3 linked regions of the Homo sapiens genome follow. Changing the gene in region 1 together with any one later gene gives a genetic interaction. Each region holds a gene or a part of one and is shown on either strand. Other genes may lie near its edges. The genes, in order: POLN, MRPL22 and ACTR10.

What was found.
Region 2: changes in POLN (region 1) and MRPL22 together harm fitness more than expected from each alone (negative genetic interaction), as found in Homo sapiens cells (one large-scale study listed by BioGRID).
Region 3: changes in POLN (region 1) and ACTR10 together harm fitness more than expected from each alone (negative genetic interaction), as found in Homo sapiens cells (one large-scale study listed by BioGRID).

What each region holds. Positions count from the first base shown.
Region 1 is NC_000004.12:2,232,122-2,235,621, reverse strand, and holds part of POLN (DNA polymerase nu), read left to right. Parts: intron 1-3,461; coding exon of another isoform or gene 3,462-3,500. Other genes in the region: HAUS3 (HAUS augmin-like complex subunit 3), read left to right, coding at 3,462-3,500. UniProt on the Homo sapiens protein: DNA polymerase with very low fidelity that catalyzes considerable misincorporation by inserting dTTP opposite a G template, and dGTP opposite a T template. Is the least accurate of the DNA polymerase A family (i.e. POLG, POLN and POLQ).
Region 2 is NC_000005.10:154,947,417-154,951,152, forward strand, and holds part of MRPL22 (large ribosomal subunit protein uL22m), read left to right. Parts: intron 1-3,404; coding exon 3,405-3,522; intron 3,523-3,736.
Region 3 is NC_000014.9:58,213,441-58,217,176, reverse strand, and holds part of ACTR10 (actin-related protein 10), read right to left. Parts: intron 3,547-3,736; coding exon 3,479-3,546; intron 1,973-3,478; coding exon 1,893-1,972; intron 1-1,892. UniProt on the Homo sapiens protein: Part of the dynactin complex that activates the molecular motor dynein for ultra-processive transport along microtubules.

The sequences.
Region 1 (3,500 bases):
ATGGCTTAATATGTTTTTGAGACTCACTCATGTTGATACACGTAAAGCTATATAGTTCATTCATAGTTTTCTCTTTTGTATAGTTAGTATTCCATTATATGATATTCCACAATGAAATTATCTGTTAGATTGACAGACATTTAGGTTATTTACAGTTTTTGTTACTATAGATCATACTGCTATGATGGTCTTATATGTCTCACAGCTGCACAATTCCAGTTTCTCCACATCTTTGCCAACACTTGTTATTTCCTGTGGTTTTTAAAACAGTAGCCATCCCAACGGGTGTGAAGTGGTATCTGTGATTTGTTTTTTGAAAGGTCTCCCATTACTGATTTTTGTCTTCTTGATCTATTGAGAATTGTGTAAAAATTTCCACTGCGATGGTGGATTTAAAAATTTCCACTGCGATGGTGGATTTGAAAATTTCTCCACATAGGCTGGGTGCGGTGGCTCACGCCTATAATCCCAGCACTTTGGGAGGCTGAGGCGGGTGGATCACAAGGTCAGGAGTTCAAGACCAGCCTGGCCAAGGTGGTGAAACCCCATCTCTACTAAAAATACAAAAATTAGCCGGGCGTGGTGGCGGGTGACTGTAATCCCAGCTACTTGGGAGGCTGACACAGGAGAATCCCTTGAACCCGGGAGGCAAAGTTTGCAGTGAGTCAAGATCGCGCCACTGCACTCCAGCCTGGGCGACAGAGCAAGACTTGGTGTCAAAAAAGAAGAAAATTTCTCCATGTAGTTGTATATCATTTTTTTCTCTATGTATTTTGAGTCTATTTTATAAGTTATATCCAGGTTTAAAGTTGCAGTGAATAATTATCCTGGTCGTTTTAAATTGCAGTGAATCAAAGCATTTAGCATTACATAATGACTATTCCTGGTGATGCTTTTTCTCTTGATATTGTTTTGTCTAATATTAATATTCCTTTGCCATTTTTCTTTTGCTTAGTAATGTAAGGCATATAGTTTTCTTTTCTTTACACTTTTCCAGTAAGTTTTTGTTATTAGTTAAGTCCTGATTCACGGACCCAGGGTAGGGATCATCATGTACCCAGGTCCCCGTTTACCACCCTGGGAGAAGGATGGAGAACAGAGGAAAGGTGGGGTGGAGCCAGTTCTGATTTTCCCAGGAAACGTGCCTTTGTCCCAGGTCAAGACCAAGGATATGGGGCAGAGGGACTTGCACACATGCCAGTACCATTTGCACACAGAGACATCACCCCCTTTAGCAGTCATTGCCGTCTTGGAGTGGTAGAAGTCCAGGTAGTTTTGCCAGCAGTTCATGTTCTGGTTCTAGTTGACAAAGTGGCTGTCAAATGGGACAGTCCTGTAGTTCTTAATTTTGACCTTCATGTCTTCTGCCATGGTGCTAACTTCTAAAGACCCTCAGCAAAGACCATAGTTTTGTTTTTACTTAGCATGATGAAATAAACATTTTTACTCTCTAAATAGTTTTCTTAACTTTTAATGTTAACTATACTGTCTTGATTTAATTACTGTGCCATCAATTTTGTAGCTGGTTATTGTTACTGGGTATTTTGATAGTCTTCTTTTTTTTCTTTTGTTTGCTCTTGAACAATATCATATGTATCTTTGTGTATATAGCTTTTTGTTGTTGGATACTTTCATCTGGATACATTCTTGGAAATAGGGTCATTGGGGTTTTTTGTGCCAGGGTGGTATATACACTTTTTTTTGCCTTTGATATGGCCAGATTGCTTTTTAAAGGAGTTTATAATGCTACCAGCACTATATAAGTGTCTACTAGACACCATTGACCATATGGCACGCCATCATTTTATGAATTGCCAAAAAAGAAAAACTCTTAGTTAAACCAACACAATGTTTTCTTATTAAGAATTTTTGTTTTTCATACTTACTAGAAAAGATCTTTTTAGATGTAGGTAGACATAGATTTTTATCATACCACTCTTGGGCATATGTTAAAAGGAAAAAAATAAGTCAATTTAAATGGTTAGGGTAGTTCTAAAGCATCACATTTCAATGTTCAATTCTTCTGTTATTTTTTGACTCAGAGTTGTCTGTAATTTTCCACACTGTGTATCAGGAATGTTGATGAGAAAGTATTTCTTAAGAGTACCTGGCCAGAAACAATCATATGATGTTCTTGATTAAGATGCATCTTCATTTCAGATATGTTAAAATGTGAAAAAAAAATGCATCCAAGAATCACTAAAATATGGTAATCTCACTCTAATCTTATCAGTGGGTATCATTAGTGTTTTTCCCTAGCTCAATGTGATATAAAATGCCGTATCAATTTTAACTTGTGTTTCTATTATTAATGAAGCTGAACTTCAGTATCTGTAGCAATGTTGTTTTAGCAACTGTATGATCTTTAGTATTTAATTGAAGGTAAAGATGAGATTGTTGTTTCTCAGTATATTCAAGTTTACCAAGTTTGTCTTAGAGGATATCACTAAATGTAGATATAATGTCGAAATTACTTGATTTTCAAAAGTATGTATTTTAAGAAGTACTCCTCTGTGAATTGGCATTTATGACAGGTCTTAAGTAGTCATTCTTGAACTTGTACATTAGAATCATCAGGGAGCGTATCAAAACGCAGGTTCCTAGCTCTGTACAGAGATTAAGTAATTTAGTCTAGTGGGGGGGTACAGGAATCTGTATTCATAACAAGTACCTCAGATAATTATGATACTTGTGGACTATGCCTAGAAGCTGTGGAAAATTGAGGGTAGTTAGAGCAACAGATTTTTCTGAGAACCTCTTTGGTGATACTGGCTAAAATTTATAAGTAGAATGCTTGATTAGAAAGCTATGGAAACTTGTTAATAATCTGGTTTAAATGCTAGACACTGAGGAATTTGAATTTACTGTAATAAATATGAAGGGTCGGCATGGCTAGATTCTTGAGCAGGAAAATTATATGATTAGGATGGTTTTCGTGGAATGTCATGTGTAATTCTATTTGGTAAGACAATATGAAAAAATGAAAAATGGAGATTTGTGTTGAGCTAATTCTCTTTTATTGGTCTTCATTTCAACTTTCTCTGTACCTTCTGTCCAGAATAAACAGAGAATAGGCTAAAACAAGGTTTGATTTATTAAGCAGAATATAAGCTCCATCAGGGAGATTTTGTTTATTCTTGTATCAGTAATCTCTAAAACAGTACTTGGCACAATAGCATTTGTTGAATATATGAATGCACAGAACAGCTTACATATCGAGTACACTTCAGCAAGAGTTTCCTTTGAATCACTTAAAATTATCTATCAGAAGTTGTTGCAATTAATCTTACTTAGAATTTATATTAAACCTGTTATGGATTTTAAATCGAGGTTTATTTATTGCTAAAATTGCGGGAAGTTATTAAGTCCTTTAAAGTCTTTCCATGTAAATTATATTTTAATTTTATAATTGGTATTAGGAATAAAGTGTTTTAATTTTTATTTTTATTTTCCTTTTTTAGGAGTTAACAGAGCAGTTTCATAAAGTTGAATCTCAACTG
Region 2 (3,736 bases), on another chromosome or scaffold:
AGGTATTTTGATGGCACTAATCTTGATATTAGGATAGGAGATAGTGAACTTGGGGTAAAAATGATACACTAGAATAGATTTGTTTGAGTCTTTGGTCTAAATGGCTTGAAGACTAAAAACAAAGGTTTTGTTTGCCAAGTAAATCATCCAAGTTGCATATTTGTATGAGAATATGCCAATATACAACCACTTTGAGTATATAAGTCTGAGTTAAATGTTTACGCAGTATCCACGTACCAGACATTGTTCTTGGTGCTAGAATACAAAGAAAGTCGGACTTGCCCTTTAAATGCTCAACATCTGTACACTTAGTACAATAACTCATTCTATTATAGCCACTTACGATAGTACAGTGGTCTAAGTCATTGCTGTATGGCTGGCAAGAACAAAGTATTAAGACAACGCGAGAATCATGATCAGATAAGGGATTAGGTGATGTTTCACATTGAGGTGACATTTGAGCTAGAACTTAAAACAGGATAAGCATTTCATTCAGGAGATAATAAGACGAGAAAACAATTTGAATAAAGGCTTGTTCAGGGAACAATGAACATCTATGTGGCTAGGCTATAAGGGCAGATTGGGTCTAGATTATGAAAGGCCTTCTATGTCTCGCTAAAGAGTCTGGACTTCGTATTGTGGGCAGTAGGGAAATACCAAAGTTTGCTGTGTTAACTTTTTATTTGGATATGCCCAGACATATACAAAAGTAGACAGTTTGATGAACCTCCATGTATCCGTCACCCAACTTCAACACTTACTACTTATGGCCAATGTTATTTATAACCTGTACTCTCCCTCATCATATTTTGAAACACTCCCCCCACTGTATCATTTTCATAAATATTTTACTATTATCTCATTAAAAAGCATTAAATATCCATTTGATATTTAAACTTCCAATGGCTTCGTAACTGTCATACTTTATAATAGTTCACACATTGAAACTAATTGATATTTCTGTTAAATCTCTTACTCTGTAGGTTTTTTATTCAACCCTCTCTTTTTTTTCTTGTAATTTATTTGTTGGAGACAATTGGTTGTTTTGTAGCGTTTTCTATACCTTGGATTTTACCGAGTGCATCCCCATGATATTACGTAACATGTTGTCTTTTCTCTGTGTTTCCTATTTTGAATCTAGGGGCTTGAGCCCCCAGTTTCATTTTGGGCAGGAAAGACTACTTTGTGGATGGTGGGTGGTGTGTTCTTCCATAAGGAGGCACATAATGCCTCCTTTATCCATTAGTTTATTAAGGATTATAAGATGATGCTATAATAATTTGCTATTCCTTCATTACTAACTTTATACAAGTCAAATTTTTCCTCATCTACTACTTGGAAACTTAATGGTACAGTTTGTATAGGAAAGACAGGATAAGTCTTGTCTTTTTCTTCATTCTTTCTCTTCATTCACCAGTTTTCAAAATAACAAGTTGGCTCACTAGCATTTTCTAATGGTAATTAATTTGTATTTTTCCTGGTTTTATTATGAACTTATGGCTTTAAACATATTTGATGTGTTTCAACCCACTACAATTATTGTCCTGATTAATGCTTGGCTTGTCCCATCTTTGGCTTGTTGGGCATCCACAAGTTGGCTCCTGAGTGCCTTTGACATGACCTTGGTAATCTTTGATGGCTTCTTTGCTTTCTGATATGACAAGATGTTCTGGGCTCATTTTGTATGTTATCTGCTTGAGATCTGCAATCAGCCATTTCTCTCAGAAGTTTTGGTTCTCTTCAATAGGAAATGGTATTTCAAGACCGTAATCTGGGAAGTAGGGGCACTAATTGCTACTAGATTGTTCATTGCTTCTACACCTCTTCAGTGGAGAGATCTAGTACTTATTGGATTTTGGCTGAACCTTTTCTGCTTATTTCCATACCAAGAATCCCAGTAGTCAGTGACACTGAAAAAAAAGGATAGCATTAGAATATTACATAACTATTCATTTGCTTATTTCAATAGACGTTTTTAAGCTGGAGGATGACATGAGTAGCTCTGAATTATAGAAGGGTAGCTCATTTGGTACTCAAGCAGAGAAAGATGGATTGGAATTGGGCAAGTTGATGGAAGAGAAATCAATCTAGAGGCTATTGCTATATAGGATGGTGGCAATTAGAATGGGGAAGAGGTAAAGCATTTGAGAACGATTTCAGGGGAATCTTTATTTTATCTGTAAGATTTGGTGACTAGCTCTGGCAGGATGAAAATCATTGGGAAGTTGAAGATAAACTCTAGAACACCATTCAAGAGTGATTTTATTTAGTGATATAGGGGAGTAGCGGATGCTGGGGAAAATGGGAGAGGGAGAATGACTAGTTGTATATTATTAAAGCAGTTAAAGTGTGGGGGAAGAGGTCAAGGAATAGTGAATTTGGGATCTTCATCATCAAGTCTCAGCCTATTAGTTTAGCATTCAAAGACAACCACTCTAGCCTCAATGACCTTTCCAATACTTAACAAATTCTCTGACTCAGTCAGACCTCCCCTTATTTCTCAACTCTGTACCTCTGCATAGATGATATATGTCGTTGCCCCATTCCTCTGATAATTAGTGTATTAGTCCATTTCACACTGCTATAAAGATACTACCTGAGACTGGGTAACTCATAAACCAACAAGGTTTGATTGACTCACAGTTCTGCGTGGCTGGGGATGCCTCAGGAGACTTAGAATCATAGGGGAAGGTGAAGGGGAAGCAGGCAACTTTTTCACAAGGCAGCAGGAGAGAGAGACAGTGCAGGGAAACTGCCACTTTTAAACCATCAGATCTCATGAGAACTCCCTCACTATCACGAGAACAGCATGGGGGAAACTGCCCAGCGATCTAATCACCTCCCACCAGGTCCCTCCCTCAACATGTATGGATTACAATTGAAGATGAGATTTGGGTGGGACACAGAGCCGAGCCATATCAATTAGGAAGTTCAAGATTCACCTGAAGTCACCTCTGAAATCCTCTGCTGTTTCCCATATTTTAGTTATGTGGTTTTATATTGTCTTCTAATTGTTTTGTGTTTTTGTCTTAGTTACTCAACAAAGTTGGGCAATCTTACAGGTCAGATCAGAGAGCTCATTATGTCTTCTCTAAATCTTTCTTAGGAGTGGGTGACTTATAGAAGACAGTGTTATTGGCCAGTCAGGGCAAGAAATCTTGGGTTAATATCTATTAACGGTTTGACTTATGTGCGTTTACTTTCTCTCCTGTTAGCCTCTAATAAACTGTCTCTTTGTTGTGTTTAAAAGTAGTCTCTATTAATGAATACCTCTAGAATATTTCCAGTTGTGATCCTTAAATTGTTTTCATCAAAATGGAGCTGAAGTGGTTCAAAAGATATGTAAACTCTACAGAAAGGTCCCCTAAGTGTCTGTTGTTTTATAGGCTTCTTTCATTTCACAGTGTTTTACCTCAATCATATATCCACACAAGTGCTTCTCTTGACATTTCTCGAAAATGGGAGAAGAAGAATAAAATTGTTTATCCTCCACAACTGCCTGGAGAACCTCGGAGACCAGCAGTAAGTTCGTGGGTAGAACTAATCTCTTAATTGTGGTAGTGCTCTTACTCTTAAGTGATTAGTAATGATTTATTATTCTGTGTTAAAAAAATTATACAACCATTCACTCTAATTGACAGAGAAGATGTACTAGATTTATCTCTTCAATAGTTGAAAAAGATTGTTATTCTTTACTTATTTGTCTTTACTTAACCTCCTGGATAGGGACCTTAAC
Region 3 (3,736 bases), on another chromosome or scaffold:
CTTTACAAAGAACATCTTGGGATGCTACACTGAATTTATTATCTTTGAAGACCTTTTATAAATTACCTGTCACCAAAATATACTAAGACATCACAAAGTTATCTGGAATTTGAAAGCTATAATTGGATCTACAGAATGAAAAATGCTATTAACTTAACTATCAATAGGGAACAACAGGAAAACATAGGTATGCCTAAGTGTCGCAAAAATCTCGCTTTCCAACATATATTCAATGCCCTAGCACTATACTAGGTGCTGCAGATTGAAAAATAAATAAGACAGGGATCCTCAAAGTCTCCTGGGGGAAACAAGTGAGTTAAGAGGCAAATGAGAATGTGTCATATGTGCTATAATAAATTACTGCCAAGGGCTTAACAGAGAGGAGCAATTTATTCTGCTTAGGGAAGATGAGGAAGGCTTCACCATTAAGATGACATTCCAGCTGAGTCATGCAGAGGGATCAAAAACCAAACTAGGCAAAGAAAAACATCCCAGGGAAAGAAAAAGAATAAATGAAGGCACAGGGCTGTGCTAGGACTCACGGTGCCTCGACAACTGTAAGAAATTTACTGTAGCTTTAATAAGGAGCAAAGGATAAAGTTTAGTGACCTAAGGATAAGAGGTAGAACAAACTCAGATTTTGAAGAAACATTTATATCCAACAGATAATTTGGATTTTAACCTGTAGGAGCTTACAAAAATTCTCAAGCAAAAGAGCAATGTATTTATATTTATTTTGTGAAAAATTGGCTGGGCACAGTGGCTCAGGCTGTAATCCCAGCATTTTGGGAGGCGGGGGCTGGTGGATTGCTTGAGCTCAGGAGTTCGAGACCAGCCTAGGCGACATGGCAAAACCCCATCTCTACAAAATGTACCCCCCAAAAATTAGCTGGGTGTGGTGGCTTGCGCCTGTAGTCCCAGCTACTCAGGAGGCTGAGAATGGAGGATGGCTTGAGCCTAGGAGGTGGAGACTGCAGTGAGCCAAGATCGCGCCACTGCCCTCCAGTCTGGGCAACAGAGTGAGATCCTGTCTCAAAAACATAAAAATATTTGTGGAAAGTTATTCCTGGCAACAGTGTGAAACAGACCGAATCCATCCAGAGTAGACTTCTGTAATAATCTAAGAAATGAGGGCCTAGATTAAAACAATGTCTTTGCTCTCGGGTGTTCAATGGTGTGGAAGGTTAAAAAAAAAAAAAAAAAGAAAGAAAGAAAAATGAGATCTGAAAGAGATTTCTGAAGAATTGAAAGGCTAACTTCCAGTTTTGTAAAACGGGAGACAAGGAAAATATTACCTTTATCTAATAATTGAAATGAATTTGAGGAAAGACATAATGTATTCACTTTTGGAAATCTTAAGTTTGAGGTGCCTAGAGACATGCACAGTCTCTAATAATCAGTTGGAAATATGAATATCAAGTTCAGAAGAAGGATCAGGCCCAGTGACACATTTCAGAATCAACAGCATGCAGATGTAGAAGTTGTGGGAGTAGATAAGATCACAGTTAAAAAGCCAGTAGAGAAAAAGAAGGAACAAACACTAGATCCCTAGTCGAATACAAGTAGAGAAAGCAAGAGCAGAGGAAACCAGAGGAATATTTGGGGAAATAATAGACAACCACTAAAAAAAAGAATCCTGAAAGCCAAGGAGAAGAAAGCATTCAAGAGTACATGATGATCCACAATGTCAAAAGTTCTGGAAAGGATGACTAAAATCAAACTATTGAATTTAGTGATTAAAAGTTCAATGGTGAGCTTATAGTTGAAGCAGTACCATCAGAGTGGCATGGGGAGAAAAGAGAATAATCATGCAATGGAGCAAAGACTAAAATACAAGTTGAAGAACAAAAAGAGAGTGTAAACCACTCCTAAACCACTTAAAATGAATTTACCCATCACTGAGGGAAGGCTCTGTTCTTTAGCAACACTTGTGTCAACAGTACATTGTTCCAATAGTTGAGTTTCCAACTCTCTGAAATTAAAAAAAAAAAGTTACTGGAATGAAAATATTGAAACTGATATCCTTATTTGATACTTTCAACTACATAATAGATTATTATGATTTTTTTTTTGGAGACAGTCTTACTCTGTTGCCCAGGCTGGAGTGAAGTGGCGCAATCCCAGTTCACTGCAACATTCACCTCCTAGGTTCATGTGATTCTCCTGCCTCAGCCTCTCGAGTAGCTGGGATTACAGGTGCCCGCCACCATGCCCGGCTAAGTTTTGTATTTTTAGTAGAGATAGGGTTTTGCCATGTTGGCCAGGCTGGTCTTGAACTCCTGACCTCAGGTGATCCATCTGCCTTGGCCTCCCAGAGTGCTGGGATTACAGGTGTGAGCCACCACACCCAGCCCGATTATTATGATTTAAATAAAAATGATCTTCCTGCCAGGCACGGTGGCTCACGCCTGTAATCCCAGCACTCTGGGAGGCTGAAGCGGGTGGATCACCTGAGGTCAGGAGTTTGAGAACAGCCTGGCCAACATGGCAAAACTCTATCTCTACTAAAAATACCAAAATTAGCCAGGCGTGGCGGCGCACGCCTGTAGTCCCAGCTACTCGGGAGGCTGAGGTAGGAGAATCGCTTGAAACCAGGCAGCGGAGGTTGCGGTGAGCCGAGATCATGCCTCTGCACTCCAGCCTGGGTGACAGAGCGAGACTCCATTTCAATAATAATAATAATAATAATAAAGGTCTTCCCCATGACATAAGTTTACCTATGTAATAAACCTGCACTTGTATCTCTAAACTTAATAAAAGTTAAAAAAAAAAAGAAAAAAATGTGGTACATATACACAATGGAATACTATTCAGCTATAAAAAAGAATGAGATCCAGTCATTTGCAACAACATTGATGGAACTGGAGATCATTATGTTAAGTGAAATAAGCCATGCATAGAAAGACCAATATTATATGTGCTCAGTTATTTGTGGGATCTAAACAGCAAAACAATGTAACTCATGGACATAGAGAGTAGAAAGATGGCTACCAGAGGCCAGGGAGGATAGTGGAGGGATACAAGGGAGGTGAGGATAATTAATGGGTACAAAAAAATAGAAACAGTAAGACCTACTATTTAATAGCACCACAGGGTGACTGTAGACAATAATAACTTAATTGTACATTTTAAAATCATGTAAAGAGTATAACTGGATTGTTTGTAACTCAAAGGATAAATGCTTGACGAGATGGATACCCCATTCTCTATGATGTGCTTATTTCTCATTGCATGCCTGTATCAAAACATCCCAGGTACCTCATAAATATATACACCTACTATGTACCCCCAAAAATTAAAAATTTAAAAAACTGGTTTATTCTTAAAAAATGAATATACTCGAAGCTAATAGAGGGCGGAATGAATAAAATTCACTGTCCGTATCACAAGCCCTCTATTGATCACTGATCAACAAACAGATTAGCAACTGTTTTTGTGGCACAGGTGAAATGAATATGTTAAATTCCAAGAAACTTACTTGTGAAGAGCTTTTCCTCCTAGGGGTAGTGCTCCCCAACAATTTAGAACTGGGATTCCTTCATATATCTATAGAGTAGTCAAGGATACTACTATTTTAGGAGATAAAATGTGGTTTCCTTGATATTTTCCTCACCTTCTGCAGTACTGTTCTAAATATGCTTTAGTGACAAATTTTTATTTCTTATTTTTAACATAGTTACAGAAAAATCAAAGAGTAAGTTTTTTTTCATGTTCTTCATCAAAGAAAACAGAATAA